4 separate regions of the Homo sapiens genome follow, and all the other regions are linked to region 4. The links come from fine-mapping of genetic effects on gene expression. A gene starts in region 4. Each other region holds a variant in brackets. All regions are shown on one strand. Distances are between the middles of the regions.

Region 1 (8,129 bases), 280 kb before region 4:
ATTTTCTATAATAACTTTTAAGTAATCATTCCTCACAGACTATATTTAGAATTCCATAGTATATCAAATATTATTTTTATTTATTTATTTATTTTTTGAGACGGAGTCTCGCTCTGTCGCCCAGGCTGGAGTGCAGTGGCACAATCTCGGCTCACTGCAAGCTCCGCCTCCAGGGTTGACACCATTCTCCTGCCTCAGCCTCCTGAGTACCTGGGACTACAGGCGCCCACCACCATGCCCAGCTAATTTTCTGTATTTTTAGTAGAGACGGGGTTTCACTGTGTTAGCCCAGATGGTCTCGATCTCTTGACCTCTTGATCTGCCTGCCTTACCCTCCCAAACTGCTGGGATTACAGGCATGAGCCACTGTGCCCAGCCCAAATATTATTTTTAAAGTCAGGATTTTTCGGGGGAGGGGACCACTTGGTTCCTTGGTTCTTGGTGGACTGCAAGAATGTAAAGGGTCATGTAAGGTGAGTAACTTATTCTACAAAGGCACTGGAACATCCAGAAAGCCTAGGTCTTGCCACTCCTCCCTCTGAGGTGCTGGCTCTGGCCCCCAGGCAACACAAAACAGGCAGGAATGACTCCGATAGGGGATGGAAGCTCCTCCAATGTGTCTTCACTGAAGTCAGCTCTGAACTCATGGACTTCTCATGGACAGCAGTGCCTCGATTATGGCTCACTGCGGCCTTTACCTCCCAGGCTCCTCCCACCTCGGTCTCCCAGGTAGCTGGGACCACAGGCATGGGACACCACACCCAGCTATTTTTTTATTTTTTTGTAGCGACAAGGTCTTGCTATGTTGCTAGGCTGGTCTCAAACTCCTGGGCTCTCGAAGTGCTGAGATTACAGGCACAAGCCACTGTACCAGCTTGCAAAAGTCCTTTCAAGATTCTGATGAGCCCTTCTAGGCATTCATTCCATTCATGCTAAAAATCCTCAGGTTAAATAATCACCAGGAGGCACACACAGAAAACCCCACCTGCAGGTCCATGTTAGCAGCTGTGCAAATCTTGAGATCTGAAAAGCTGTAGGTTTTTCATTCTCCCTAGGCTGATCTTTCCTTACTCTCTATATTATTCCAGCCCAGACTGATGCACTGATTATTCTCTTATATTTTCTGTGCCCTTTTTTTTTTTTTAAAGTGTTTGTTCTTAGAAGTCTCCTCACATCTTCTATGGAACAAAGTAAGACACAGATGAATAATACAATGCATGTATTTTTTGTTGTTGTTTAAAACTAAGCACAGCTTTAGGAACGTAAGACAAAGCTGAGCTTCCTTACTAACGTGAACAGACTCATAACAGGCATTGAAATAGACATGCTGGCAATAAAAAGGTGGCAGATAAAGAATTCAGTAAGCAACACAGCCGGAAGGGAAAAAGAGAAAGCCCAACCCACTGACTTGGATTTAATGGAACCAGTCCTCCTATTCCTATTACAATTCCATCTCCATTCCATGCTTTCCCTCTTGTCAATTTCACACCCTGGCTCCACATACATCACTGCCCCAGCCCTTAGTGGTGGACAGAGATATTCACTGCTCCTCTTCCAGCCTTTGCTGATAGAATTTGTAAAACATCAAGTAGCAAAGCAAATTGTTCACAACCTGCGTTCCTTACCATAAAATTTATCTTTAAAGACCAGCAATGTTAGAAGCAGCCCAAGGACTTGTTCAGAATGCCACTGGCTCTAGAGTGGCCATGATATTACTGGCTGTGCTCAGAACAAAGCTGACTTGACCAGAAGCAGCACAGATTTCACTGCAAGCCCTAAGATACTTACAGAACCAACTGGCAATATGGCAGTTTCTGGCAAAGGAGTCAAGGTTTTGAACCTGTATGGTGTTCCCCTCTTAAGTGCTACTAAGAAAACCTATTTGCGATGTTACTTGTAGACACAGATCTGCTTTGGGATTCAGAACAAATAAAAAAGAATCTGGGAAGATTCTTTCTCTCTCCATGGCACAGGAGGGTGAAGGGGAGGGGAGGGGAAGGTGCTGAAGTAGACAAGGTGGAATTCCATGGTTGTTAGCACCGAAGATCAGATGCATAACTTGTAAATGAAAAATGCAAAACGAAAATGCAAGCCCCCGCCCCGTTCAAAAAGCAGGGGGAAGACGCTACAAACAATAATAAAACATAAAAGTTTTTCCTTTCTTCCGTATGCTTTCTCTTGGCTTGTTAAGATGTTTTGTTTTGTTTTGTTTCGAGATGGAGTCTCGCTCTGTCACCCAGGCTGGAGTGCAGTGGCGCGATCTCAGCTCACTGCAACCTCTGCCTCCTGGGTTCAAGTGATTCTCCTGCCTCAGCCTGCTGAGTAGCTGGGATTACAGGCATGTGCCAACAAGCCTGGCTAATTTTTGTATTTTTAGTAGAGACGGGGTTTCACCATGTTGGCCAGTCTGGGCTTGAACTCCTGACCTCAGGTGATCCGCCGCCCTCGGCCTCCAAAAGTGCTGGGATTACAGGCGTAAGGCACCACATCTGGCCGTTAATGTGTTTTTTAATTGCTATTTAATGTTACAATCCCTCAGGCATGGGGATACTTGTAAGTGCAAACCCTTACAAACACTCAGGGCCCTGTCCATATCTTGGTACCTGCACACAGACCATTGGCTTCTGGGTACCCTCTCCCATCAGCTGCTGGACAGATGCACCATGCACTGATCAGGGGCGGGTAAATCAAGCCAGGAACCCTCTCTTCCCATGGCCCCACAATCTCAACCCACAGCAGATGGGTGGCCCATAAATGTATTGCAACATCAGTGTTGGGACATGCTAGGTGCCTGGACTGCGGGTAGGCAAGAGGCTCACCCCCACTGAGTCGCCTGTGGAACACACAGCAGTGTTGCCAGCCCAGACTGGGCTGGTCACCACCACGCTCCAATCCCAAGATACCCAGGGAGTGTGCACTTGACCCCAACCCTCCCGTGCTCACACCCATGTCTCTTCCGCGGTAGAGGGCAGTAGAAGTCTCTACGTAGGGAGGGAGATAGGGAGGTCTGGCAGGGCCTGAGATGCCGGGGGGCCAGAAGGTGAGAACCGCACAGGGACGCTGGGAGGTGGCAGGACTGTGTGCAATCCAAAGCCCAGCCCTCTCATGGACATTCCATTGGACTTGACTTATAAGATACAAATTCAAAGATTAAGAATTTCCTGACAGCAACCTTGAAGCATTCATCCCCACACACAGGGGCCTTCTCATTGTGGGGCCTGTGCAGCTGCACTGGCCACATGCCCAGAAAGCTGGCTCTGTTAGCAACCTACCAGAAGTCCAGAAACAAAATGGACACAAGTTTGCCCCAACTGCCCCCAGTTTTCCATCATAAAACCTAATTATCCAATCTGTGTTTATGACAGGAATGGCAAAGAGATTTCACCTTGCACAGATATGAGGCTGCTCTGGTGGCGGTAGGTGGGAGGGGTCTCACACCCTACCTGTTTAGCTTCCTCTCCCATTGCTTTGCAAGGCAGAGCCTGGTGTATCTTTAAAGACTTCTAAAGCCCACCCATTTGAACAATAATGGTAATTTATTACATTGTGCAAAGAGCTGACGTAGTGAGATACAGGCAGAGTCTTGATGGTTCTAGAAATCCCCCCAAACCTAACTTAGCCTAGGGGTTTTCTTCAAGTGTCAGGGAGATTAGGAAAGAGAAAATTGAGGGATAATTACTTATTAAATGGCTCTGGGTTGATGGTTTGTAAAAACTGGACAATGATCCAAAGTCATTATTTGGATCTAAGAATATAACCTGGTGGCTGAAAGCAAGTCTTTACAAACCTTGGCTTCTGGGTCACTGTTGATACTACAAGAATCATCATCATCAGGGTGTGGGGCATTTCTAGGCAGAAAAACAGAAAAGTGGACTTAGAATTCTATTGCAAACTATCTGCACAAAGCCATACATTGACAGCAGGTCGATCCTACTAATGTCCTACCTGAGTTTCAAAGATGCATAGCGTAGGGTTGCTCCTTCAAACTCTTTTAAACTGGGGTCCGGGTTAACAGTGGCTGCATGCAAATCCTAGAGGAAAATAGAACCTTGTTAATGTACAATGGGGGAGAAGACCATTCATTGCCTCAAATATCAAAGGGGAGAAACGTCTTCCCAGCAAGAGGCAGAGAGTGTACGTGAGCTTAGGCAGAGAAAGGCATGCAAGGACTGTTGAATGCTGACTGGTGCAAACTCCTGTTCTTACAAAACAACGGGGAACCTAGGGCATTCACAATGGGAGACACCAAAAAAAGGCAACAGGAGTGTGAGCTGAATGCCCCTAGCAAGAAGCCCGATCACTGTGTCCCTGCAGAATGCATGATATTCACAAAGAAGAAAAATATACAGCCACAGCCATGCAGAAAGGATAAAATATTAAATGATCTAAGATCTGACAATATACTTGCCTTCCAAATGTCACTATTAATCTTTCCCCCATTCAGAACAGCAAAATCACTCCATGGCTGTTTCTAGACATATAATTATTCACATAGGAAAAAAGCACATTGATTTAAAGAAAAAGAAAAGAAAAGAAAAAAAAAAAACACAAGACACTGTTGTTAGCATTGATATTCACAAGATGGGTTAGGGAACAAGTTAACTCTAACAGCAACTTGTTGGCTCACTCCCTCTATGTCTAGATTATCACCTGAAGACGAGGGCAGG[A/T]GAGTGATGGTGCTTTAATTACTTACCAAATAAATGACTAAACATTATTAGAAGCAGACAGTGAAGTTATTTCCTTAAGGTAATTTTAAAAGCAAACAATATAATTCCAAGTATTCAATAACTAGCATACCTAATTCCATAATAATCATTTTCCTCCCTATAAACCAAACAGAACTGTTTTCTGGTGGTGGGGGTGGAATGAGGGACGGGTACCGTGTTTGTTTGGAAACTAGGGAATGCCCATGGCTGAGGGCCCCAAAAGTTGGGGGTCAAGATATTTTCACTTAAAAGAAAAAAAGGAGAATGATGGGGAGAGAGGGTTAGTGAAGAACACAGACTGACATCAACACTTGGCGGAAATTTAACCTAACAAAAAACAACTCTAAACAGTCTAACATAAATTTCTCTAATTCATAAAAGCTCTACTTTTTTTTTTTTGCTTCAAAAGCTTCTTCACAAATTAATACTTGATCATGAAATGATTTTCTAAACGTAATTATAGTGCAAGGCATGAAGCCTGGCTTTGTTGCGAGAGCTCTTGCAATAACTGATTTCCAAATCTAAACAACTGCTCCATCCACCTCAGACAATGAGAAAATGTCTTTTCTTTCTACTAGGCCTAGTGAATATTCAAGTATTTTTCATCTAAGATTTGGGGAAATAAGCAAGCAAGGCTAATAAAACTCAGGGACAGTCTTGTGAATTGCTTTACTGACTGGTTAGGCAAATCTGTTTGTATAAGAAATCAACCATCAAAACTTTTCAGCTAAATCACTTTTCAACTGAAGTTCTTTGAAAATGAGAAGTGAATAATGACCCATAACTTTTACTCACAACATTGATACAGTTTTAAAAACCACTAAAAGCAGAAAAAAACTAAGCTTAAATGTCTTGTGCGTCGAAAGATGCATTTATTTTGTTTAAAAATTTTTTTGAGACAGGGTCTCACTCTGTCACCCAGGCTGGAGTGCAGTGGCCCAATCACAGCTCACTGTAGCCTTGACCTCCTGGCTCAAGCAATCCTCCTGCCTTGGCCTCCTGAGTAGCTGGGACTATTCAGGTGCATGCTACTACACCTGGCTAATTTTTTAAAACTTTTTTGTTGAGATGGGGGTTCCATTATGCTACCCAGGCTGGTCTTGAACTCCTGAGCTCAAGTGATCCTCCCACTTAGGCCTTCCAAAGTGCTGGGATTACAGGCGTAAGCCATGGCGCCTGGTGCAACATGCACTTACCAAACTCTGCAAGCCTCTCTGAGAGCAAAGACACTTCAAATTTAGACCCATTATTACTATTGCACATGTGGTGTCATTTTCATTTTTGGTCTAGGCACCTAAACTGCAGCTTTTCAAAATAAAATGGGAACTTAGACCACTATATTTACTTTTAAAAAATAATTTCTCTTAATGAATAAAGGGCAGGAATGTTGCCCAATCCCTTACCTTTCCCCTCACTCTACCCCCAGAAGCAGTGTTCAGTCTTTATGAAGAGAAAATTAATAACCTAGGGCAATCTTAACCTGTTAGCTCGGAGGAGCTATGAACCCCTGAAATGGGTGCGGGGTTTTGTACATGTACATTTTCCTGAGAGAAAGATGCCCAATTTTTCTCATATTTCCAGATGGGCCAGTGACCAATTTCGGTTTGGACCACTGTAGGGCTACTAATATGGATGTGAGATGAGGACCTGAAATATCAAGTACAAAATAAAATTTTAAGCTAGAATTTCTTTTTCAAAAAGAAAACAAGCTTATATGGCCTCAAATTGTCATCACTGTTTACATGTGAGCAATATTTGTTGTTAAGTTGAACTTTAAAAAAGGATAATCAGATGATGAATTAGGAAGACCCAAGATAATTGTGTCTTTGTGGAGAAATTTATAAAGAAACAAGAAAAACAAAGTTACCTCACAAAAAGAATTTCAGAAATTATCCCCAAGGGACCCTATATGTTGAGGCTACAGAAAGTAAAAGAAGAGTATTTTCTAAAACAAGTACTCAGAAAAGTCTTCAGTACCTAATTAAAACAGTTCTCTGCGTGTGTGTGGTTTTTAAAATTTTTAATGCATTTACTCTTTGGACATAAGGGTATCTGTAAAGCAAAAGCTAAAAACAGTATTAAGACTGTCAGAATCCAGCTCTCATGTTATGGAAACATGAGTTAGATGGCAAATGTCCAACAATCACCTTTTACAGATTTAAATAAACAAAGGCTCTGTATAGTGATTTTACAAAAACTTAACACGGGCACTCTTAAGGAAATCCTTTAGCACAAAACTCAGTAAGGAAATGGAAACTGGCATTATATGTGTTATGACTGGGCCAAAGATCTTTTTTCCCCTCCTATATTTACAACTATTCATTTACATCAAATATGACAAACTTTCTCCAATGTATAAGTGACCATAATTTTTCTTTTTTAAAAAATTAAAGTCAATGAAAGACAAAGTCACTTTGTCTTAAATTTTAAGAATTACATGGTCTATTCATCTAACTTTTTTAATTAAGAAGAGAGAATATTTTCTATATTTGGCTAATAAGTTTTGCTAATAATTTTTAGTTAACAAATTTTTAAAAAAGCACAACCCAACAGAGATTCTTTGGTTCTACAGAAAGTCTGTATCCACCCCCGTAGGGGTGGGAGAGATGAAGGAGGAAGAGGAGAGACAAAGAGAAAAACATTAAAAGGGGAAAAAGCAAGTTGGACAATATGCCTCAGGTAAGACAAACACAAAGATGGGGAAAGAGGTGGTAACGGACCAACAGGGACCATCTTCTATGAGCAACAAGCTTCCATGAGCCTGGTAACCCTCCAGGCAATGCAGCTAAAGCCTTGCACAGCTGAGTGACATTCTGGTACCACAGTCATAGCTGGGACACCCTCCTGGTGCTTGTCCTGACCTTGTCCAGGCTGCAACCTCCCTTTCTCTGATTACTTGATCCTGCTCAGTTCTGGGAGAGCCTTGGAGCCTTAGCTCCTCAGAGACAGTGTGTCTAGGGGGACTGACCCAATGCCCGGGGTATGGCACTCCTCAAAACCCTTGAGCACCACACGGAAGCTGTGTGAGGCTGGACCCAGTAAGGAGGGAATCCGATCATATAACCTTGACTACTGAGAGTTTTCTTCTTCCATGTTTCTCTTCTGGGGTCTTGGAAAGCAATTCCACATAGCAAACAAAAATGACGCATTATCTTTCAGCTGGAAAAAGGCCAACAATGGAGTTGATTCTTTGACAATATCAACAGAGTGCTCTTAAAGACTAAGTCTCAGGGGCTGGGTATGTCCCTACCAGGGGACTTTCTCTACAATGCTAAGAAAATCTCTACGAAGTGGTAGCAAAATGCAAAGCAGGGGGCAAGAGTGGAGGGTTGAACCTGCTGAGAACTGGGTAGAGAGGAAAAGCACTAAAACATTCCACAGTGGCAGTGACAGAAGCTAAAATCATATCATCTCTGTGTGCAC
Region 2 (8,129 bases), 73 kb before region 4:
AATACTTAGGAATAAATTTGATATGGAAGTATTAGACTTGTACCCTGAAAGCAATATAACACTGTTGAAAGATATTAAAGAAAACTGAAAGAAATGGAAACATGTCCCATGTTCACGTATCAGAGCTCTTAATATTGATCTGCAAGTCAACATAAGAGCTCTTAATATTGAACTAGAAAGTCAACATAATCTCTTATCAAAAGGCTGGCTCAACATTCAAGTATCAGTATCATCCAACCTATGAATAAGTTAAAGAAGAAAATCATGACCATATCAATAGTTGCAAAAAAGCACCCAACAAAAATCCAACACTATTTCATAATAAAAACTCTCAGCAACTAGAAATAGAGGGGAAATTTGTCAACTTGATAAAGAACATTCACAAAAAACCTAAAACTGACATCATATTTAATGGTGAGAAACTCAAATGAGTAAAAAACTTATCCACATATCTATATAAAAACCTGCAAATTAATGTTTCCAGCAGTATTGTTCGTAACTGCCAAAACTTGGAAGCAACCAAGATGTCCTTCAATAGGTGAATGGATAAAGTGTGGAACAACGATATAATGGAATATTATTCAGTGCTTTAAAAAAAATGAACTATCAATTCATGAAAAGACATGGAGGAAACTTAAACGCACATTGGTAAGTGAAAAAGCCAATCTGAAAAGTCTATCTATTGTATAATTCTAACTATATGACACTGTGGAAAAAGTAGAACTATGGGGCAAAAGATAAGTAGTGGCCAGGGGTTCAGGAAGAAGAAATGAACAGGTAGAACATGCAATTCTTTTAGGGCAGTGAAACTATTTTGTATGATACTGTAATGGAAATACAACTTATATATTTATGAAAGCTCATAGAACATACAACGCAAAGAGTGAACCTAATATAAACTATAGATTTTAGTAATGATAATGTATCAATATTGGCTCATCAATTATAATATACCACACTAATGCAAGACACTAATGATATAGGAAACTGGCAGTAGAAGTCACATGGAAACTTTCTGTACTTGCTGCAAAATTTCCCCCAAAAAACAGTGTAATTACAAAATATAATATTAATGAAAACTCTATCATTAAAAAGAGGAAATAAGTCTTTAAATTCATTTAATTCTCCTTAAAACAGAAAGCTGACTGAGGTTCTGGTGAGAACAGCAGCTGTTACCTTGTCGTGTTAAAACTAACTCCAGACAGCTTTCTGATAGCCTCTCATTTGGCTAGGCCTTAAACAATTGTATTCAGAGTAAATAAACAAGATTCTACCATTACTAACCTCTGAAATTATCTTCATTATCTGCAATTTACTTTAACTATATGCTCTGGAAAGCCTTCCCTTCTTTTAGACTCAAAAAGCAAGTAATTGAATTAAATCTATTTTTTAAATCTTTTTAATGTTTTTTAATGTTCCTAAGACTTAATCCTCTTCTACCTTGTTAAATAATCGCCCTCCCTGCTAGTCTACCACCCAACAGAATTCCTAATTCCATCTCTGTTCCCACAAAACTTTGTTCTTACCTCTAGAGATACATTGTCACACTGCATGTCAGTCATGTGAATACTTATCTGGCCTATCCCCTACACCAGGGGCCCCTGGTACCAGTCTGTGGCCTGTTAGGAACCAGGCTGCATAGCAGGAGGTGAGCAGTGGGCTAATGAGCACAGCTTCATTTGTATTTACAGCCGGTCTCCATCGCTCACGTTACCTCCTGGGCTCTGCCCCCTGACAGATCAGTGGCAGCATTAGATTCTCATAGGAACGCAAATGCTATTGTGAACTGCACGTGCCAGGGATCTAGGTTGCATGCTTCCTATGAGAATGTAATGCCTCATGATCTGCCACTGTCTCCCATCATCCCCAGATGGGACCACCTAGTTGCAGGAACACAAGCTCAGGGCTCCCACTGATTCTACATTACAATGAGTTGCAAAATTATTTCATTATAGACCACAATGTAGTAATAATAATAGAAATAAAGTGTACAATAAATGTAACGTGCTTAGATCATCCTGAAACCATCCCTGCCACCCCACTCACTGTTTGGAAAAACTGTCTTCCACAAAACTAGTCCCTCATACCAAACAGGTTGGGGACTGCTGCCCTACACCATGAGCCCCTAAAGACAGGGACTATGCCACAGTCATTTTACACTAAGACCTCACTCCTAGAAGGTACCACCAATTGGGATGTTTTGGATGTAAGAGACAGACACCTAACTCAGATGAACTAGCTAAGTTGCCAAGAAAGTGAAACAGGAGATGCTGGGTTTAGGCACTGCTGAATTGCAGGTCAAAAATATGTGTGTGTCTGTGTGTGTGTGTGTGTCTGTGTGTGTGTGTGTCTGTGTGTCTGTGTGCACACGCGCATGTGTGCGTGTGCATGTGTGCATATGCATACGAGTGTCCCTTCCCTTCCCACCAATCTCTTTTCCTCCATCTCCCTGCTTTGATTTATCCTGTGTTGTCTTAATTTTCAGTAAGGTTTTCCCTAAGTCATAGAAAAACTGCCACTAGCAGCTCCAGCTTAACAAACTCACAGAAGGCAAAACTTCTTCAATAGTTGCAATAAGAATACTATGGCCCCTCCAAAGATGGTTGTGACCCTTTAGTCCATTTTCATGCTGTACCTGAGACTGGGCAGTTTACAAAAGAAAGAGGTTTAATGGACTTAAGTTCCATGTGGCTGGGGAAGCCTCACAATCATGGTGGAAGGCAAGGAGGAGCTAGTCATGTCTTGCATGGATGCCAGCAGGCAAAAAAAGACAGAGCTTGCGCAGAGAAACTCCTGTTTTTAAAACCAACAGATCTCATAAGACTCATTACCTATCACAAGAACGGCACAGGAAAACCCCACCCCCATAATTCAATCACCTCCCACCAGGATCCTCCCATGACATGTGGGAATTATGAGAGTTACAATTCAAGATGAGATTTGGGTGGGGACACAGCCAAACCATATCACTGGCCACGCTTATGTTACATGCCCATAACTGAGTCAGCAGGGTCACCTCCTCTAACTACATAGGGTGAAAATGAAACAAGGGCAATTGTCCAGGAAAAATCTGGATGATTTATTAAAAGATGGAGGAAAAGGATGCTGGGCAGACAAAGCCAACAGACATTCACTACTTCACAGATTCTGAAAGACTGTGACTCACTACTTTCTAGGGAGTATTTATTAGCTGCTTATGTAGAAAGCTGACTTACCCACTGAATGTCCAACAGAAATGGTCTGCAATGTCTGTCCCTGTATAATATATGTTTTCAAAATGAATTATTTCACTTTACTGCCTCATATGGGGTTATCCATGCTGTTTCATTCACCTGGCCCACAGTGAGAGCATTTGGCATTTATTTAAACACCTATGTTTTTCAGGACATTCTCTTCCCCTGTCGTATATAAGTATCTTAATGCCAAATGCACACACTGCAGAAAATGAAATGTGTTGGTGGCTTTTGTTTGGGGAAAGATTAGAGTATATAAAATCTGGCCAAGCAGACTGGAGGCTCACAGCCAGAATTATCCCAACAGAAATGGCAGGTCTCCATGCCCCACCCTTCAAAGTTCGAAAACACAAATGAGTGCAAGTCTTTGAAACTACAAATCCAACTCCATGAGGCTGGACGCCGCTTTCTCCCCAAAATAAAGCCAAGACCATTGAAGTTGGCATAGGTGGCTTCCAGTTGTGGCTTCTTCCAATATTTGTGCCAACGTCCTTCTCTCTTCTCTGAGAGAGGAGAGGAAGATGAGAAAGAGGATAGGACAGAGGAGAGGAAAAGGAAGAGAAGGAAAGGAAGACATCATTACACTATACACAAAAGGCTATCAGCATGTATCTGCCATTTACACATGCTGGGACTCTCACAAATAACTGAAAATAATCATTTGGGGTGGTCTCCAAAATGAGCCTGGAAGGAACAAAACAACTTTTCCCTATCCGGCCCAATCCGCTTTATCCA[G/T]CCTCTCTTACTTATACTAACCTGATTTTGCTTAAATTATTGTCAGCCTCAGCTTTTCACAGGAGCTTTCTTTTATGGATTTTCCATCCAGCAAATGTTTCTGTTCCACGGCTGGGCAGATCCGACCACAGCATGCTTGGCTACAGACCACAGCAGCTCACCCACAGCAACTCCAACCTGGGGGGGCAAAGGCCAGAAGCCATTATAAGGACTCAAAGTCATCAACTTTCTCTCTCTCAAGGGCACATATTTGGCAGGATAACCTCAAACATGTTCCCAACGTTCAAAATCATTATAAACAGAGGCAACAGCTTACAAGGTATCCTAAAGACAAGTGTGGGCTATTCTGAGGGGAGGATTGAAATATTTAATCATTTATTGAAAAGGTTTGGCCTAGTGATTATGCTCTGTTTGTGGGAAACTGAAAAGCCAGATGTTTTAATTAACCATGGAAAACACAAGCTACAACTAAAATTTCATGAACATACTGATCTGCCCCGTGGAAAACCACAGGAATGTTCTGGCAGGGCTCAGTCTGAATTCTTGGGACACAGAGGGCTGGAATCATTCCCCTTAGGAACTGAAACAGAAAATTAACTTGCTCAATATGCTTTAAAAAGTAAAGCGAAACCCAGATTTAATCTCAAATATAAAACATTACAGGACTTCAAAGGGCACCACAAAAAGACACATAAGTGGGGGCTATAAAAAATTCTAATGCGGTTCAGGATTTAGAATATATTTACATTGCAATATGAATGGTGTAATAGAAAATTTTATAGGCTACATAATCCAAAGGGGAAACGAATAATCTTTCATTTCCTAATAGAGGAAATTATATATGAAACCAACATTCAACAAGTAAATCATAAATATTATCAAACGTATAACATAACTGGGCAAAAGGAATCCCTTAACTATCCTGCTGCCAAACATGTGGCCTAGCCCACAGGCGCTGCCATGCTTTAGCTAGAGGAATCAGGGCTTAAGGAAAAACAGTGTGGAAATAACTTATGCTCACTGGTGGTGCAGCTAGCAATTCTGGCACAGAAAACTCAATGAGGGAATCTTATGAAAGCAATTAGTGAACATTAAGAGCTAATAGATTAAGAAGTCTTCATTTGTTAATTATAGTAACAGTTATGACGACATCTGTATATGCCAAATATTGAAAGTCTATTCAAGAGGGGACAGGACAAATGTTATTTTCAGATACTGGGTCCACAGTTCTATTTCTGTAAATCAAAACAGTCCTCGTCACAAGTGTGCTAAGCATAACATTACATTAATCTCTACCTTCAGTTGAAACCTCAGTCCCAAAAATCATCTCGAAAGGAACAGCAGAAAAAAAGCAAAATATCAAGTTATATATGTATGGTATGATCCCAATTTTGTTCTACAAACTGAGTGCATATAATCTAAAGACACCTAAGTATGAACAACAGCACTTTTGGGTTATGGAATGGAAAGCTATTTGTATTTTCTTTCTAGTATTTTCCAAATTTTCTACAATTAACATGTATTTTAAGAGAATTTTTAAATAAGGGGTTTAAGACTGCAGGAATACAAATCAGAAATGGGGTATCTATGCTATATTAGCCTGATCTTCGGTCTGCCTCTTATCTGAACAGAGCTAACAAATGAAGAAGTATTTATCTGATCACAGAAGTTCTTAATTTACACGTTCAAAACCCAAGTGTCCAGTAACACTTCCAGTGATGAACAACACTTTCCTAGAAATAAAAAATTCTTTTTTACTCTGCAAACTTGCCACAGACAGAGAACCATAGTTGTTTCCCTCCCTCACCTATCGCATCCAAATTTCTCTATCACTGGCCATGCCATAAAACTGTCACTAAGTTAAAAGAACGGGCTGGGCATGGTGGCTTATGGCCTGTAATCCCAGCAATTTGGGAGGCTAAGGCCAGAGGATCACTTGAGCCCAGACGTTCAAGACCAGCCTGGGCAACAAAGAGAGGCCTTGTCTCTACAAAAATTTAAAAAATTAGCCGGGCATGTTGGGACATGCCTGTGGGCCCAGCTATTTAGGAGGCTGAGGTGGGAAGGTCACTACAGCCTGGGAAGTCGGGGCTGCAGTGAGCCATGTTCACGTCACTATACTCCAGTCTGGGAGACAGAGTGAGACCTTGTTTCAAATACACAAATAAATTAAATAAATAAAAGAATGCCTCCTGGTGTTACCTACTCACAGGAGCAGGGCCCTTAATGACTCCTGGCACACTCATTTCTGATGCTCTTGGCATCCTGAAAAACACAAGACACAATGGTGGAATCTTTACACTGGGGCCTTGGCAACCCATTGCTCTAATAAGCCCGTGCCCAGAGAGGTAAAATGTCTTTCCCTCAGCCACACAGCCAGCAAAGCAGGAATGAGAGTCCAGACCATTTGCCTCCACTTTGACCAAGTGCTCTTTCCACCACTATGACATTTCAGCATGAACTCTTGGAAATAAACTTTGTACAAATCACGTGCAGGTATTAAATTCATACCAGCAAAACCAGAAGAAGAAGACAGAAATTTATTCTACCAAAAATGAAACGCATGCAGGAGAAAAAGTGAAGACTCAATCCTAGGCTAAAAAAGACACAGCTCTGCCTAGAACATGTTCAACTGAAGAAACAATGAGTGCACTGTGCTTGGGCAGCAGGTGTCCTGAACAGAAACTGCCTATCACACCGAAAGCTTTCTGGTCCTAGCACTGGCCCTGTTGATAACACTACAGTCCCACTGTTCAAAGAAGAACAAAAGGCTTTCAACAAGATAAAACTACACTTGCACCAAGCCACCTGTGAGAGACAGGAAAGATGCATGCACCAGTGTTAGAAATAATAAATGTCTGAAGGCATCAAGTCTGGCCTCTTACTTCCAAAATGACCCAAGTCTTAAGGGAAAGACATTAGTGGTTTCAAAAATTAAGAGATGCCAGGCACGGTGACTCATACTTGTAATCCTAGCACTTTGGGAGGCCAAGACAAGTGGATTGCTTGAGCCCAGGAGTTCGAGACCAGCCTGGGCAACATAGTGAGACCCTATCTCTACAAAAAATTTTAAATATTTATCCAACATGGTGACTCATGCCTGTAATCCTAGCACTCTGGGAGGCTGAAGCAGGCAGATAACTTGAGGCCAGGAGTTCAAGACCAGCCTGGCCAACATGCCAAAACCCTTTCACTTCTAAAAATACATAAATTAGCAAGGCATGGTGGCACACGCCTCTAATTCCAGCTACTCAGGTGGCTGAGGCAGGAGGATCACTTGAACCCAGGAGGAGGAGATTACAGTGAGCTAAGATAGCAGCACTGTACTCCAGCCTGGGCAACAGAGTAAGACTGTCTCAAAAAAAAAAAAAAAAAAAAAAAAACCCGGGCATGATGGCACATGCCTGTGGTCCAGCTATTCAGAAGGCTGAAGTGGGAGGATTGCTTGATCCTGGGCGGTTGAGGCTGCAGTGAGCTGAGGTCTCACCACTGCACTCCAGCCTGGGCAAGAGAACAAGACCCCGTCTCAGAAAAAAAAGAAATAAAGAAAACAATACAGTCACTAATAATTAAAATAATCCTAATCCTTCATCGCTTATGTCCACACAGCCTTGGAGTAAGAGCAGGCTTTTTTCTCTCTTCTTCAAGATTATTTCTTTGAAACATTGTTTACTTCCACTTTTTGTGTTACATCTACCTATGGTATCCACGCCACACCAATCAGAAACCCAGGAGTCTCACAAAATGGGAATAGTCTGAAAAGCCAGGGGAGAGAGGAGGACAGGTGGCAATGACAAACTCAGAAACAATCCCTGAAAGGTCTTTACTGAGCTCCCTTCTCGTCATCCTTTCCCGACTGTGCATCAGGGCAACAAAGGCATGAACTGTGAGGCTGCGCATAAAGCCGCGGCCCGGGCTGATGTGATCTGGCTTTGCGAGAGCCCGAACAAACACAATGGCTCTGTCCCGCCTCAACTGAGAAGTCAGGCGCTGGGTGAAAAAAGAAAATGCTTTTTCTCCACCCAAAACCACTTCTCAAACCCCTACCATATATTCCCGTGACGGATCCTGAAGGCAACACAATGTCAGCAGTTTATTTATTCCCTTTGATGCCTCAGTTCTAACAGTAAACATTAATGTCTGCAGCAGGCAAACGGAATC
Region 3 (8,129 bases), 360 kb before region 4:
ACAAAGAAAAATGCTCAAAGGTCTCATAACCAGTTGAGAATGACAGAAAGGGTACTGAAGGGTGAAAACATCTTGGAAAAATGGCCAAATACACAAGATTGCACTGGATGGATACGTCTGCTCATCTACACTGGAGAACCAAAGAAAAGAAAGTCAAAGTCTTTTTTTTTTTTCTGAGACAGTGTGTTTCTCTGTCACCCAGGCTGGAGGGCAGTGGCGCGATCTCAGCTCACTGCAACCTCCATCTCCCAGGTTCAAGAGATTCTCGTGCCTCAGCCTCCCTAGTAGCTGGAATTACAGGCATGTGCCACCATGCCCAGGTAATTTTTGTATTTTCAGCAGAGACAAGGTTTTGCCACGTTGCCCAGGCTGGTCTTAAACTCCTAGCCTCAAGTGATCCTTTGGGGACACTCGGCCTCCCAAAGTGCTGGGATTACAGCATGAGCCACCGTGTCTGGCTTAAATCAAGGTCTTGATACAACATAAATGTAAAGGGAGTTGTTCCATGGCTTAATAACTTTGTCCTCGAACAGTTATTACTTCTATTAGCATGTATTTTCTACAGACATAAACAACGCATCAAAGAAATCAGGTATGGTCCTAGATCACACCCCTTCCTGCATCTTCTACAGTCAACTTGGCGAGTTCAACCTCCACATTTCCCCCACCCACCTGCTTCTCTTCATGCCCTCTGCCATGTCACTGATCTCTCCTGGACTAGGGCTAGCCAACTGGTCCCTCGTTTTCCACTCCTGTTCCCAATATCTATTCCCTGAGATCTTTCTGTATGAAATAAACTAGATCATGGCATTCCCCTGGTTAACCCTCTTCACGGGCACCTCATGGCAAACCTTTAAGCACTGCCCACAAGCCCTAAAGGATCCTGTCCCCACCCACCTCTTCCAGCACAAACCACTGGCCTCCTCTTCATCCTCAGGCACGTTGAGTGCTCCACTTCCTCAGTGCTTTCCTTCTTTTTTTTTTTGCGATGGAGTTTCGCTCGTTGTCCAGGCTGGAGTGCAATGGCATGATCTCGGCTCACTGCAACCTCCGCCTCCTGGGTTCAAGTGATTCTCCTGCCTCAGCCTCACGAGCAGCTGGGATTACAGGCACGCACCACCATGTCTGGCTAATTTTTTTTTTTTGTATTTTTAGTAGAGACAGGGTTTCACCATGTTGGTCAGGCTGGTTTTGAACTCCTAACCTCAGGTGATCCACCTGCCTCGACCTCCCAAAGTGCTGGGATTACAGATATGAGCCACCACACCCAGCTGTTCCTCAGTGCTTTCTATTCACTCCCTACATGGCTGGCTTCTTCTCAGCCTTCAAGCCCAGCTCAAATGTTGCCTCCTAGGACAGGCTGCCTCCTGATGGCCCCTTTCCCCTCTGAGCTACTCTGTTGCATCACGCTGTTGATGGTCTTCAAGACACTCGGCATAACCTGTATCATCTTGCTTCCTGAATTGTTTTTCCGGCTTATCTCCTGCCTCTTCAAACAGGGACCTCATCTGTCTCAGTCCTTCATGCTGCCTCACAAGGTGCCTGACACATGGATGCTCCTTATCTGCCGAACAGCATATTAACCATTAGACTATAAATATTAAGCACATGGATGGTCAAAATTAAACCCTAAAAGTAGACAATGAAGTATTTTCATCTACATTCATTCATCTGCCCATTCATCAACTGGGTTATTTATGGAGGGCATCCTATACTAGGTACTATGTTAGGGCCCGAGGAATCCAAAAGTCTAAGAACTCCTCAAATATGTCATATTCTGTGTTCAACACAAGCTCTTTAAAAAGACAAGTTACACTACTACTTAGTATGTTTTTCTGTGATCCTAGAGATTTGTGAAAACCTAGATAAGAGGTTATATGCCATCAGTTTACTCCCAAAAACCCATGAAACGTATATGGAGAGTAAATAGGGACACAGTTAAGTCATCTCTTAACACTCGGGAGCCTGGACAGATGTAAAGCTTTGCTCAGCCAGTGGTACAGAATGAAATTCATTTCCTAGGCCTGGCGCGGTGGCTCACGCCTGTAATCCCAGCACTTTGGGAGGCCGAGATGGACAGATAAGCTAATGCCAGGAGTTTAAGACCAGCCTGGCCAACATGGCGAAACCCTGTCTCTACTAAAAATACAAAAAAATTAGCCATGTGTGGTGGCGGGCGCCTGTAATCCCAGCTACTCGGGAGGCTGAGGCAGGAGAATCGCTTGAATCTGGGAGACACAGGTTGCAGTAAGCCAAGATTACGCCACTGCACTCCAGCCTGGGCGATAAGAGCGAAAGTCCATCTCCAAAAAAAAAAAAAAAAAAAGAAGAAAGAAAAAGAAATTCATTTCCTAGGGGGGCTGTCCAAGAGGAAAGCTGTATAGGTGAGACAAGGAGGCTGCATGACTGATAGTTTTGTAACAAACTGGAATTACCCCATTGAAATCAACAATGCCAATGTTCAAACTCTTTAGAACTCAGCTCTGCCCCTCCTTGCAGCTGCAGGCTCCTTTGAGATCAAAGTAAGCAAGTTCAAGATGACCGACTTTAGTGCCCAATGGCCCACTGGTGTGATTAATACTTCCACCCTTGGAGTGCAGATGACCTGAGGCCCCTCGTTGTTTGCGCCTACTGCCACATGCTCAGCTGACCTCCAAGGCGGCCATCAGCAGCAGTATCTTCTTGTCTCACCTTGGTGTCATCCACACTGCTTCCCAGGGATGCTCCAGTGCAGAGAACCTGCAATGGGCCCCACGCCAGCATAGTGTGAGCTCCAAGAAAGGAAGAAGACACCTGTTGTATTTATTATGCCACTTAATCACCAGCACCAATGCCCAGCACATGGCAAGTGTCCAATAAATACTTATTAAATAAATTATCCCCATTGCAGAAAAGCTAGAACTAAACAACGTGGCGGCTGTTAGAAAAGTGTGTTTCTCACATCTGCAAAGTGAGAATGATAAAATGAGGCCAGGCATGGTGGCTCATGCCTGTAATCCCAGCACTTTGGGAGAACCGAGGCAGGTGGATCACCCAAGGTCAGCAGTTCGAGACCAGCCTGGCCAACATGGTGAAATCCCGTCTCTACTCAAAAAAACAGAAATTAGCCGGGTGTGGTGGTGTGCACTTATAGTCCCAGCTACTCAGGAGGCTGAGGCAGGAGAATCACTTGAACCTGGGAGGCAGAGGTTGCAGTGAGCCGAGATTGTGCCACTGCACTACAGGCTGGGTGACAGAGAGGGACTCTGTCTCAAAAAAAAAAACAAAAAAAAGGAAGCAAAAC[G/A]GAAAGTAGGGTTCTTACTGAGCTACAAACCATGACACCTTCTTTGATAATACTGGCTGATGCTTTATGGAAAGTCTTTCCCCTCTTAAGCATTTCATTCACACTCCCTTTTACTTATAACTTTTACAAAATTACAGACCACATTTACAAACACATTCTGCTTCTAACTTCTTAGGAAAGGCCTCAGGACACTTAATAATTCCTTTCTGAACTCAACTAACTAAAAGGCAGCAGCAAGGATCTGAACTTTAGAGAGAATCTTACAAACTACTCTTGTGTAAGAGCTCGGCTGGAGGAAGGGCCAACTGCTCAATGGCCTAAGAAAACCTAAAAGAGAACAGCATGAGGAAAGCAGGCAGAACCCCCATTCATGATACAAGTCAAAGCCAGGCTGCAGCTGCAGTTATAAAAAGAAAGAAAAAGACTAATGGGATTGCCCCCTCCTTCCGCCTTCTCCCACCCAAGGCAGTAATGAAGATTCACAGCTACACATTAATTAGGAATCCATAGACGTGCCTGGTTACAATATTGGTATAGGGAAACAGATAATAGAAAAGGCACAGATTCCCCCACAAGCTAATAGAGTGTTGTAAGCAATATTTAAATCTTCACGCCTTTCTTTTCAAAAACACTACTTCTTTCTCAATGCCAAGAGCTGGCTGCGTTTCTACATTTGGGGAATTTGAGATATTTTCTCGCATGGAAGTCACACCAATATCCTAAATCGTGTAACTAAAATCATTTGGAAATGCACAGTTTTTCTACACGAAAGGATATTGCTTTTAATCCAAATACTGGATTACCAAAACCCTGAAATATCTTTCAGTCCTAATGTAGACAGGAAGACAGAAATGTGGCCTCACCAGGGGGCACGTGAGGCGAAGGCAGTCACTGCCTCAATCATAGAACGCTGTCCACGGCAGAAATGCCCCGTGCAGACCCCATCAATGAATAGCCCACCCCGAACAGTCCTGCTGCACTGGCGAATTGGGGGTCCAAGGACGCCTCCCCCCCATTTCATACAAGCCTCACTCCTTCTTCCCACCGGCGGGGCAGAAAGCCCCCTCTTCAGCCCTTCCAGCCGTCCAGGACCAGGCAACTCGCTAAGCGCTGACTCGGGGAAGGGAGGGCGCAGCCTTTGTCCCGCAGGTCTCCCGCGCCCGCCTCGCTGTCCCCGCGAGCGAGCTTGGGCTCGACCCCCGTTCCCCCTGAACGCACCTGCAAACAAAGGAGAGCCGTTCCTTCGCCAACTTCCTCACCTTTGCCTCCCGGTCCTTCCGAAGTCGGGCGGGGATGCCGCCCCAGGTGCTACGACAAGCCCCAGGGTGCCGGCACCAGCCAGCGGTGCCGTCGCTCAAGCAGCCGCGCGCACTGCCCCGGGCTCAAGTTGAAGAGAGCGGCGCCCGCGCCTCCCTGCGCCCTCCCTGCCCCGCCCGCCGCGGCCGCCCATTGGCTGCTGGGGAGGCGCGTGGCCCCGCCCCACCCGGCCGCACTCCCGTGAAGTGCTCCCGCTAGGTGCTCCCGCCAGATGCTCCAGCTGCTAGGGGACTGGCTCAGGGCCGGCAAGGAGGATCCCCCACCCCAACATACTCCCTTCCTGTAACGAACGTTTCCTTTTTGGACTCTCAAGACTTAGAAACTTCATTCAAACCCACTGAACCTCTTTAGAAAAAGTTGATGCTCTAGGCCTGCTGGGTTTCTGGTTTCTTTTCTTTTCTTCTTGAGACAGAGTCTCGCTCTGTCGCCCAGGCTGGAGTGCAGTGACACGATCTCGGCTCACTGCAACCTCCGCTTCCCAGGTTCAAGCGATTCTCCTGCCTCAGCCTCCCTAGCAGCTGGGATTACAGGCGCCCGCCACCATGCCTGGCTAATTTTTCCTATTTAGTAGAGATGGGGTTTCACCATGTTGGCCAGGCTGGTCTCAAACTCCTGGCCTCAAGTGAGCCGCCCGCCTCGGCCTCCCAAAGTGCTGGGATTACAGGGGTGAGCCACCGCACCAGGCTGGGTTTCTACGATCCTGATTGTGGGGCGAGTGGGGGAAATGGGGGGCGGGGAGGGGTGGTTGGGGAAGGGAGGTATTGCAGCCCACAGCCAGAAAGCCTTTGGGCAGAAAGACAGAAACCAAATTGTAGTTTTATAAATCTGAATAATCAGATTTCAAGAGGCAGAAAATTCTGAATCGAGCTGGAAAGTGTTTACAGATCATCTGCCAATTTACACAAAGCACTTAGCAGTACACCCCTACACCCTTTTGTAATCCCTACCTCTTTTAAGACACCTTTTGTTTATAGCTGACTTGAAGCCAAGATCCCACAGGCACCCCAACATTGTCATCTCTAGCTGAGCGCCCCTCCCCCCATATACATGGAAGCAGAAAATGTCCAATTGGCTAAGTGACAGCACTTTCAGCACTTTAAGTAAGAGTCCTGGCTAGCCACTAGTCATATAAATATATGAGTTGGAAAGGAAAATCCAAGGTCTCTCACTGACTGTATTCTGTGAGCACTGAAAGTACTTCCTCTTTCTAATTGTTTCTGGGCAAGCGTAAGTTATTTGATTAGCCAATTAACAAAGTGAAATAGGGAGGCTGAGGCAGGAGAATTGCTTGAACCTGGGAGGTGGAGGTTGCAGTGAGCCAAGATCGCGCCACTGCACTCCAGCCTGAGTGACAGAGTGAGAGTCCGTCTCAAAAAAAAAAAAAAAAAAAAAAAAGAGCAAAATAGGCAAAGCATATTAGCCATGTTTTTGGCTATATTCAAAGTCTCATACGCTCCTTTTACAAAGAAAGGAACAGAAAATAGGAAATACACATGGAAAATCAAGGGAGTATTTAACTATAGGTCTTGTTTGGGTTTGGTAAAACACACCACAGGTGTACAGACAACTTTAATGTTCATGTTTAAATGAGGATCAGGTGTTTTCTCATTTGTTCAACATTTACTAAGCTCCTCCTAAGTACCAGGTTCTGTGCAGAAAATTTTATATTATGCTTTTCTAGTTAACAGTTGTCTTTCTAGGGAGGGCAAGATTTAACTCATGCTGTTTCTGAATCTACGATCAGTAACACTTCAATTATTTGGAAGAGTTATTGACAGTAAACTGCTTTGGCAACCACAACTGTCTGGAACACAACACAAACTGCAAGTGAGGCTAGAAGAGGGTTTAAGACTTGGGGTTCAGCAGCCAGAACAGACAGCAGCAAGCTCAGAGATATGAAACAAGTTAACAGGATTGTACCTGTCACCCCTTCAAAGGCTGCCTCTCCTTCCTTACACATCATTCCAGTGAGTTTGGTTGTCTGATTCTCTGTCTATAGCAGGGCAGAAGCAACAAATAGATGGGTCTGCCAGATGTCCACAGGGTACGTCAAGTGTGACAGCTGAGGGTCTGCTGGCAGGAAGTCATGTGTGACAAGTCCTGCCAACTCTGCCTCCTCCTGCTCTCTCCAACTTGCCCCCTTCTCTCAACTCCATGCTGCCACCCTAGTTCCAGCCAACATCTCATCAGGAGGGCTGCTGTCATTTTTTTTTTTTTTTTGAGACAGTGTCTCACTAGTGCAGTGGCCGCTATCTTGGCTCACTGCAACCTCCTCCTCTTGGGTTCAAGTGATCCTCATGCTTCAGAGATGGGGTTTTGCCATGTTGGCCAGGCTGGTCTTGAATTCCTGGCCTCAAGTAATCTGCCCACCTCAGCCTCCCAAAGTGCTGGGATTAGAGGCATGAGCCACCGCACCCGGCCTGCAGTAGTGTTTTAACAGTCTCCTTGCCTCCACTCATCTCTAACAAGCTGTTCTCACAGGAGCCACACCTGTCCCTTCAAAACAAAAACAAAAATCACAAATGCGAGTCCCTTCAAAAACGAAAATCACAAATATGAGTATCCATGCTCGAACCTTAAAACCACACAGTGGCTTCCCACTGCAATGCAGATAAAGTCTATAATCGCTTTCAGGGTCTCACAGGCCGCCTGGGATCAGGTCCCTGCTTCTATCTCCAATGCTGCAACCACATTCCCTCCTCTTTGTCTCTGCTCCAGTCCCCTTTTCTTCTTCCAGTTCCTGGAACACGCCCAGCTACTTCCCACCTCAGAGCCTTTGCACTGACTGTGACCCTCCTAGAATGCTCTTCCCTGCACTGCTCACCTGATGAATCCCTCTCATCTTCTAGGAATCTCAGCCCAAAAGTTGATTCCTTTGGAAGATGTTCCTGACAGGCAGTGTCCTCCCTGACAGCATCCCAGGCTTTTCCTTCGTACTCCTGCTGCAGCTTGGTGTTAAATATTTGGAAAATCATCCATTTATTATTCATCTCCTTCACTTTACAGTGAGCTTTATAAACTTACAGAGTCTGGTTTTGTTTCTGTACAGTGAAGAATTCAACCTTGGCTGAAGAGAGCCTCTGCCTTCAGCTTCTGGGAGGTAAACTCTAACACCTTGGAATGTTGTGCCTGACTGGGGTGTTTCTGTTTGCCTAGTGGCCTTGGGATACACTAGAGGGTCTAATAGGGTGATCTGGGGTGGGCGCTTGGCCCATGCAGTATCAGCTCCACCTCTGGAGGGACTCGAGACTGAGATTAGCCCTGGACCAGTTGTCTATGCCTTTGGGGTGGAGCCTCAATAAAAATCCTGGACACCAAGGCTTGGATGAACTTCCCTGGTTGACAATACTCTGTGCTATTGTCACACGGCAACACCAGGGAAGTTATGCTGCCCAGGACACCGTGGGGAGAGGACAACTGAAGGCTCAGAACTTCCCTGGACTCTGTCCTATGTGTGTCTTCCTTGGGCTGATTTTAATCAGAATCCTTTCCCTGTGACAAACCACAACCATGAGCATAATCACAGCCC
Region 4 (8,129 bases):
TGTGATTATAGGTGTTAGCCACCGTACCCGGCCAGGTATTGTCTATTTTTAAAATGAAATTGAAAAAGGTACAGAGACACGACATACCATTTTTCTTATTTTTTCCTTCAACTTTTAAGTTCCAGGTACGTGTGCAGGATGTGCAGATTTGTTACACAGGTAAACATGTGCTATGGTGGTTTGATGCACAGATCAACCCATCACCTAGGTATTAAGCCCAGTATCTATTAGCTATTCTTCCTGATGCTCTCCCTTCCATTTTTCTTAAAAGATAAATTTAGATATCCAGTACTCAGGATAGTCCACACACATCATTATTCTAATATTATGACAAGGCTTTCAGTATTCATTCCTGTGGTAACAGAAAAATAAAAGAATTCAATGTTCATATGCTGTTTTTCTGGTGGCAGGAAAAGAAAACAGTCATCAAAAGGTTGAAACATGACAAAAAGTACCAGTTTAAAAATATTTTATGTTTGTACATGTGGATTCTTACAATATATGCAATAGTTTTTTCCCAAGTAATTTTGGAGTCAGTATTCACATTACTCCAGCTAAGTGTAAACACCAGTATTTTGCACTTTAGCTCATCAAGCTTTCTTTTTTTCAGAAACAGGATCTCACTCTGTTGCCCAGGCTGGAGTGCAGTGGCGTGATCATAGCTCACTACAGCCTCAAACTCCTAGGCTCAAGCAATCCTCCCACCTCACCATCCAGCTTTTCAATTACCACTTTATAAAAATTTCAGAAAGCCAGTTCACATTGGCTCCTTGAAGGTGAATTTATTCAGTTAAAAGTATCCATTAGAAGAGGGAATAAAAGCATAGGACCTAAAAACCTTCTGTGGAAAGGATCTCAACTTTAGAGTCGTCTCTCAAAGGCTCTCAGCAAATATCTAGAGACGTGGTTACATCCAGTTTACGAAGACTGTCGGTGACTTCGGGGTCATACAGTACATGGACAACGAAAGAACAGCAATTGAAATCTTGTACTTGTACCCCACCACCTTCCGCCCTATGATCAACCCACTGTACTCTACTGCCACCTGTGTTCTCTCGGCATTTCCCCAGCCTGGAGGTTTCCCCATTCTCGCCACAAATACCATCCTTCACGAACGATGCCATTTCTAGGATGTTGCAAGTTATGATAAACAACTGTTGAACAAATATTGCTTACAAGCTACAAGTTGAAAACGAGAAGGTTGCTACCTAAGTTCATGAAGAAATCCCCTTTCAAGGATTCCATCTGTTCCTAAAAGGCCAGCCACACAAATTCTAATACTCTGCATTATTATGGCCATTTGGGGACAAGATTTTAAATCTGAAACCATGACAAGAAAAAAAAAAAAAGCAAGATTTAAGAGAGTAAACTCCAGAAACAACAGATCAAACTGCCATTGTGTTTGTTTTTTTTAAATCAGTGAAATATTAAAACAAATGATAAACCCATGCCAACCTCACAAAGTTTCCTCATTCCTTGGAATTCAAACACCACCGATGGCATCATTTTATGATAATCCTTTGGGTATTTCACGTAAGTAATTAGACACAATGTAAAGCCAGTGACTGAGGGACTTAAACAAACTGTCCCCTCCGAGAGCCCAGTTGGAGCTTCCGACACTGACCTTATTCTCCTCTCAATTTTAACCCTCCTCAACCACTCAATCCATCCAAAAACGTCTGTGACAGTCGTGGCTCTAAAACCGCGCAGAACTTGACTACAGAACGGTCGGTGACAACTCCACATATGATTTATCCAAATTAATTTATTTTTTTGAATTCTAGTCCCATGCTCCCTCGGCTGTTTGCCCCGAACCCGTAGTCTACACCACTTCACCGACGTGAAGACCACCTTTCATTGTTTCTATGGGTCTCAGCATCCTTCCCTCCGTCCAGCTCTGTTCTCGCCGCACAAATGTCATTTCTAGCGTACCACCCTCCATTCCGCCCGGTGGGCAGCGCAGGGGCTTTCGGGTCCCAGTGGCCAGTTTCCTGGAGTCGGTCCCCTATGCACAGCCATTTTCTAGTTAAACGCTCTCTCTGCCACCGAGGGGGAAAAGGAACTTTTCCCCCCTTTCATGTCTCATGGGCTGGCCTCTGAACCCCTCGTGGAGAAGCCAACCCCGGCTCCAACTCCCCGGCAGGAGCGCGCTGCCGCCCAGGAGAGACAGCCGAGCGGCACAGCGGAGGCCGGTGCCAGGACAAGGGGGTGTGCGCTCTTCCCGCAGGCGCCCACCCTCACTTTTCCCCTCTGCAGTCCCCACCCGGGCGCACCGCCTCCAACCCGGTCTCCCCCGCCCCAGGCCCTGCCAAGCCGGGGCTGCTGAGGGAAAGAGGGCGCCGGGAAGCGGGAGGGATGGAAGTCAAGGAGAGTGAGCCCGCAGTCGCCGTGCCACTGGCCCTGCGGCGCGGGCGCAGGGCGCACGGGACTCCGCAGCAGGCGCCCCGCTGCAGATGCCGCGGCAGCTGCTGCAGGTGTGGCTGCGGCTGAGCGGGCAGCAGTGGCCGCGGAGCCCCGGGGCCGGGAGCAGAGGAGAAGCCGCCGGGGGAACCCGCAGCCGCTCGCCGCACGCTGCTGCCGCTACCCGGGTGTTTCCCCAGCACTCTCGTGCTGCCCCGGAATCCGGGGCAAAGGCAAGGAAGAAAGCTGGGCTCACCAGTGGTGCGCGCGGCGCTCGCCTCGGCTCCGGCGCCCAGCGGCTCTGCTCCAGTCTCGCCCTTCCCGGAGCGCCCAGATCAGATGCGGTTACAGCGCACTAGCTTCCTACTTGAGACCAGAACGGGCTCCGGCAACTGAGCATGCTCAGTGCCGTTCCGCGAGTCCCGCGCAGGGAGCGGCGCTGACGAGATTCCACTTCTCCAGGCTTTGGCAGCGGCTGCGCGAGGGAAGGCTGGAGGGACCCGGCGGGGAGGGGGCCGAATGGGAGAAAGGCGGGGCCGGGGGGTGGGGGCCGGGCAGAAGGAGGCGGGCCGCGCTCCCAGGGCGACCCCTGCAGGTGGAGGCGGCAGGGCCTGCGGGAGGCACCCTCCCCAATCGCCTGGGAACACGCAGGGAGGCAATGGGTCCCCCAGTAAGACCCAAAGGCAGGACGTGCAGTGCAGCCCGGGTATCCCCTCCGTGTGGCTGGTGTCTGTCTGCACCAAAAGGCAGTTGGGTTACCTTAGCCCTGGCTTTTCTCCCACACGCCAGCATTCCCTTGCAATAGGAAAATGTCCCCACAGGAGAGCTGCCCACACCCACCCAGGCTAACTGCAAGTTGTAGGCGACACCTTCTCCTTCCTTCTACCTCCTATCCCCACCCCCAGGCATATGCCGCACACACACTCTTCTTTGATCCGGAAATCACAAGATAATATCAGGGGAGAGATACAACTGCCGGAGAGGAAAAGGAGGTTTTCCTTTCCATTGCCAATAATATTATCTATAACTCTAATTGTAAGCGTGCAAACAAAGCCCTGATAAGAGTCGAGTCTCAGTAAACGGTAAACCGTGCTCTGCCCCAGACGCTGTGAATGACATCCCCAAAGTATCCTTAGGATTGCTCTTCACCAGGGCAGCGGTTGTCAAACTGGAGCCTGGATCAGAATCGCCTGGAGGGTTTGCTGAAGTACAAATCCCTGAGTCCCAATCTGTGTCTCTGAATGGGTAGATATGTGGTGGGGCCCAAGCATCTGTATATCTAACAAGTTCCCATGGGATGCTGATGCTGCTGGTGTGAGGACTATACACTTTAGAGAACCCTACCCATACACACACACACACACAGTCCTACCAAGGATCTCGAATTAAAAACTCACGTGATTCTTCCTATGAGGACTCTATGCAGTGGGGTGGGCATTACTTTATTCTTTCCTACATGAGTTTATTAAGGATCCACGAGGTCTTGTACTAGGCCTGAGGATAGTGGTGAATTTAAAAGCCCAGGCCCCTGCTTTCATGGAATTTATAGTCCGGCCGGGTGACAGACACCTATCAAATAATCACTCAAAACGGTTATTTCAAACAGGTAGAGTGCTGGGAGGGAAATGCACAAGGTGCGAATAGAGTGTATAGAGGGACCCTCATGCAGACTCAGTGAGGTTGTTACGAAGGGATGGGAGGGGGGCTGCCTTGTGGAAGGTGGTTTCTGACTTTTGCACTCCAATAACCTCTCCAATTAACAATTATCTCCCTCAGACCGAGCTGGAGGCCAGCAATCATGTCCCTCCTTCCTACAACATAAAAACAATACTGTCACAGAGAAATCCCTATAAATTCATGAAAAGTGTTTACTCTTGGGACTGAGTCTCTGCACCCCAAGATCCACCTAACACGTCCGTGGACCAAGGACAGTCGAGGGCCACAGTAGACCTCTTGGGGAAAATACAGGCTCTCTGAACTGGAGAGCCTGTGGTTCTTAGTCTGTGATCTTCAAGGCCAAAGAGGCAAGGAAACCAGCCCAAGACCACCATTCCCGTCAGGAGCGGAGATCGACCAGCCTCCAACCTTGCAGACGGGTCCTCTTTCCAAGGCACTCTATTCCCGGACCTCACAGCTCCCCTCAGATCCCCGGAACCCGGCCTGGCCACCCCGCTCTCTCTCGGGGGTCCGGGGTAGGTGAGCGGAGCCTGCCCCTCCCAGGTCGGTCTCTTCCCGACGGAGAGGAAAACCCGCGGTGGAGTCCGCGGCGGCGGGGGGGGGGGGGGGGGGGGGGGCGGGGCGGCGCGCGCAGGCGCAGAGGCCGCCAGGTTGGGCCGAGGAGGCGCCCTGCTCCACACCTGATGCAATCAGCCTTCCGGAAACGGGTCCCGCTGCCGCGCTCACCCAGGAAACACTTCCGCGCCCTCCTCTGGCCGCTGAGCTCCCGGGGACGGGTTCCCAAACTCCCCCGGCCCGACTTCGCCACGGGCGGTGTTCTGCGCCCCGTCGGGGATACGCCGGAGAAGTCGGGAAGTCACTGCCTGGGCACACAAAATCCCTGAAATGCCCTGACAGTGACGTCGAAACGGCCACCAAGCGTTGCGCAGCTGCAGGAGGAAATTCCCTTAATTATGAATTTACAGAGGGGACTGATCGGGGCCGGAGGGAAGGCTTTGACCCTTCCCTTGCTTCCTTCCTTCGTCCGCCTCCCAACACATTGTCTCTCTCACTGAAAGGAACGTTTAACAGCAGTTTTAAGGCAGTATGGAGAGGAATCTCCATGCCCTCTGTCTTGCTAAATATGTAACAGCACTTTAGCTTTGCTACATAAAGCTTTCCCACCGCGCGCTCATTTTATAAATACGTAATTGGTTTCTGCATACCTCATCATTTCAGTTTACAAAGAAAATCATTTCTCGTTTCACCACTTCATGCAATTTTTATATCTATTGTGAGTGGGTTTTTTTCTTCATGCTGACTCACCCATTAATTGTTTTCCAAGGAAATGAAATATCCAAGAATATTCCAAGAGCATGTTTTTTAAAGCATGGAAGTAAACGCTGTGAACAGTAGATAAAACTGACCTCTCTTAAGTCCCTTAAGGCCAAAGGTCCTCCTAGGGAGTTGGGGGAAGGAGGCAGATCCAAGGAATTTTATTTGGAAGGATACCTCAAGACCATTCTAGAATCAAATCAAGATCAACTCTTAGACTTTACAGATGACATTTACCTCTCTGTGGCCCAGAGAAATAAATGACTTCTTTATTTAGACAAACCAAAGGCAGAACTGGCACTTGAAGCCAGATTTCTCAAAATTCCAATCTAATGGGGAAAAAAAAATGTTTTTTGCACAAACACCGTAGGGAGTGCAATACTATATTACAATGCAGTTTTACAATCCAAAGATTACAAAATACAAAATAGGTGACAACAAAAGGGATCCTATTACTTGTTCCTGTGACGTCATTAGTCTTTAAATAGTCCATGATCAACAAATATCCAGCCACTTCTAAGTGGCATTGAATAGCCAGAGTCTAGGAATTAAATATTTCAATTAAACAGGTATGAGTCAGGTGCAGTGGCCCAAGCCTGTAGTACCAGCTACTGGGGAGGCTGAGGCAAGAGGGTACATGAGGCTGGACGTTCAAAGTTGCAGTAGGATCTTGCCTGTGAATAGCCACTGCACTCCAGCCTGAGCCACACAGCAAGACCTCATCTCAAAACAAAACAAAAAAAACAGTATAACTACAAAACATCAAGAAATCTTCTGTGCCAACATTAAGAACTTCTAGTATTATTATTTGATTGTGTGGTATATGTGCAACGGTTTGAGCTTAAACCAAGGGAATTTTAATGATCACAACAAAATATCACGGTCATGATTTTCTTCTGTAATGATTTTAAATACTTTAACAATTTAGTAATCAAAGTGAAATAAAAAACAACTCAAAACTCATGCCTGCAATAAGATAAAATCTAATTCTTCAAAACTCTGTCTACCTTCTTATCTTGAGGAATGAATTTCTTTTTGGAATGTTCTGACAGAGATCTGGAGGAACACCTTCTATTGAAGCAAAAATAGAGTTGAGTAAATGTCAAAATGCAGAGGTACAAAATACACACTGTCACACGGTACTAGTTTTAGAATAGCTAACTCTTACTGACTATTTAGCATGTGCCAGATACTGGCTAAGCATTTTCCATAGGTTATTTAACTCAATCCTCACAACTACCCTATAAATGAAGCACTATTATTATCCCTATTTTATGGATAGGGAAAGTGAGGCTTGCAAATGTGAAGCAGCTAACTCAAGGCACAAAATATTCATTGGCAGAACTGGGATTTGAACCCAGGCAGTTTTCCTGGAGCTTGAGCTCTTAAATAATACTATGTATGGAAAAATGTAAATACAGAGAAAATGACTATAATGATTCTCAGATAAGAAAGGAGAGGGAGTATTGTACTTACTCTCCTAAAGATAAAACATAGTAAAATAAGTTTGTAGTCCACACTAGGAAAAAACCTTTTGCTAGCTAATAAATTATGGTCCCCAAATATAGGACCAATATTACCCAGAGGTATGAGGCAGATGATCAAATATCGAGTGATTTTTCAGGGGTACCAGCAAGGCCTCTTCTCTGATGAACCCTCTACGCCTGACTGGTTTCTCTAGTCCTAAACCATCCAATATGGCAGTCACTAGCCACATATGCTTATTTAATCTGAAATCACTTAAAATCAGTTAGAATTAACTCTTCGGTTCCTCTTTCATACTAGCCACATTTCAAGTGCTCAGTAGCATATGGCCTAATGACTACTGTATTGGATAATGTAAGTAAAAAGCATTTGCATCACTGCAAAAAATTGTATTCAACAGTGCTGCTCTGGGCCTTAATGTCATTAGGGCAATCCTTTAATCTCTCTTCATACTGCACTATTCCTGGGAGGACCATGTTTCCATGGTCTACCTTCCCATTGAGCTTCAGTCCTATTTTTCCAAACTAAAATTATTATTAGAGTGTAGAAAGGTACAAAGAGGTACAAAGCATAAAGTCCCCTACTATCATGGAAAGAATAGGGGCACTGGAGTAAGACCTTATTTCACATTCCAGCTCTTAGTAGTTGTGTGACCTTGGGCAAGCTACTTTACCTCACTGAATCTCACTTTTCTTATCTGCAAAATGGGCATGTTAATTTTTTCATTATAGGTTTATTTAAGATTAAATAACATATGTAAAGCTTCTGGTAGGCCTCACATAGGATGATTTCCTTCCTTCCACTCCTATTTCAGTTAATGACATTCCCCAATTACTCAGGTTTCTAAACTAGAAATCTCAGTCATCTTCAATTCTTCCTTCCTCCTCAACCACCCGCATTAAATTAATCACCAAGCCCTTTTGCTCCCAACTCAGGAATGCCTGCCTCTCAAATGTGGGCCTGCCTCTCTGTCCTCACTGTCCACTGTCCTCACTGTCTTTTCATGCATATTTCAGAATCCTGCTAACCAACCTTGATGACACCCATCACTCCCAATCCAAGCCCTTTCTTCACACCGCTGCCAGAGTGATCCTTCTAAAAAAAGGTGCTGATGATGTCATTCTTCTCCTTTAAAACCGCTGATGACTTCCAGTTGCTTAAAGATAAAATCTTAACTACTAAACTGAAGGACACATAATCAAACTCCATCACTCCATCACTGCTGCTTGTTTGGTTGGTAATAAAAAGAAAAT

Direction of the effects. Positions count from the first base shown, and alleles are read on the strand shown. Sizes are in standard deviations (SD) of each study's normalised expression. Not every link is listed here.
With allele T in place of G in region 2, the expression in thyroid of the gene that starts at base 2,794 in region 4 is higher (small effect, 0.32 SD a copy in GTEx).

The links. PIP is the estimated chance that this variant, and not a neighbour inherited with it, causes the effect.
Region 1: its variant is fine-mapped to the expression of APBB2 in sun-exposed skin (GTEx, PIP 0.96).
Region 2: its variant is fine-mapped to the expression of APBB2 in thyroid (GTEx, PIP above 0.99).
Region 3: its variant is fine-mapped to the expression of APBB2 in whole blood (TOPMed, PIP 0.96).

The regions. Positions count from the first base shown.
Region 1 is chr4:40,930,669-40,938,797 of GRCh38, forward strand. It overlaps APBB2 (amyloid beta precursor protein binding family B member 2), which reads right to left. Exons shown (of 18, transcript NM_004307.2): 8 at 4,409-4,471; 9 at 3,946-4,031; 10 at 3,788-3,848. Among named protein-coding and RNA genes, the nearest start is that of NSUN7, 180 kb to the left of the region's middle. The variant A/T (reference allele first, on the strand shown) is at 4,668.
Region 2 is chr4:41,138,998-41,147,126 of GRCh38, forward strand. APBB2 (amyloid beta precursor protein binding family B member 2) reads right to left here. Exons shown (of 18, transcript NM_004307.2): 2 at 3,990-4,145. Among named protein-coding and RNA genes, the nearest start is that of APBB2, 71 kb to the right of the region's middle. The variant G/T (reference allele first, on the strand shown) is at 3,969.
Region 3 is chr4:40,852,484-40,860,612 of GRCh38, forward strand. The region is part of intron 12 of APBB2 (amyloid beta precursor protein binding family B member 2); the gene reads right to left. Among named protein-coding and RNA genes, the nearest start is that of NSUN7, 110 kb to the left of the region's middle. RefSeq lists a silencer at 4,637-4,836. The variant G/A (reference allele first, on the strand shown) is at 3,284.
Region 4 is chr4:41,211,749-41,219,877 of GRCh38, forward strand. It overlaps APBB2 (amyloid beta precursor protein binding family B member 2), which reads right to left and starts at 2,794. Exons shown (of 18, transcript NM_004307.2): 1 at 2,657-2,794. RefSeq lists enhancers at 1,087-1,166, 4,734-5,548, 4,856-5,105 and silencers at 2,169-2,478, 2,889-3,058, 4,676-4,725.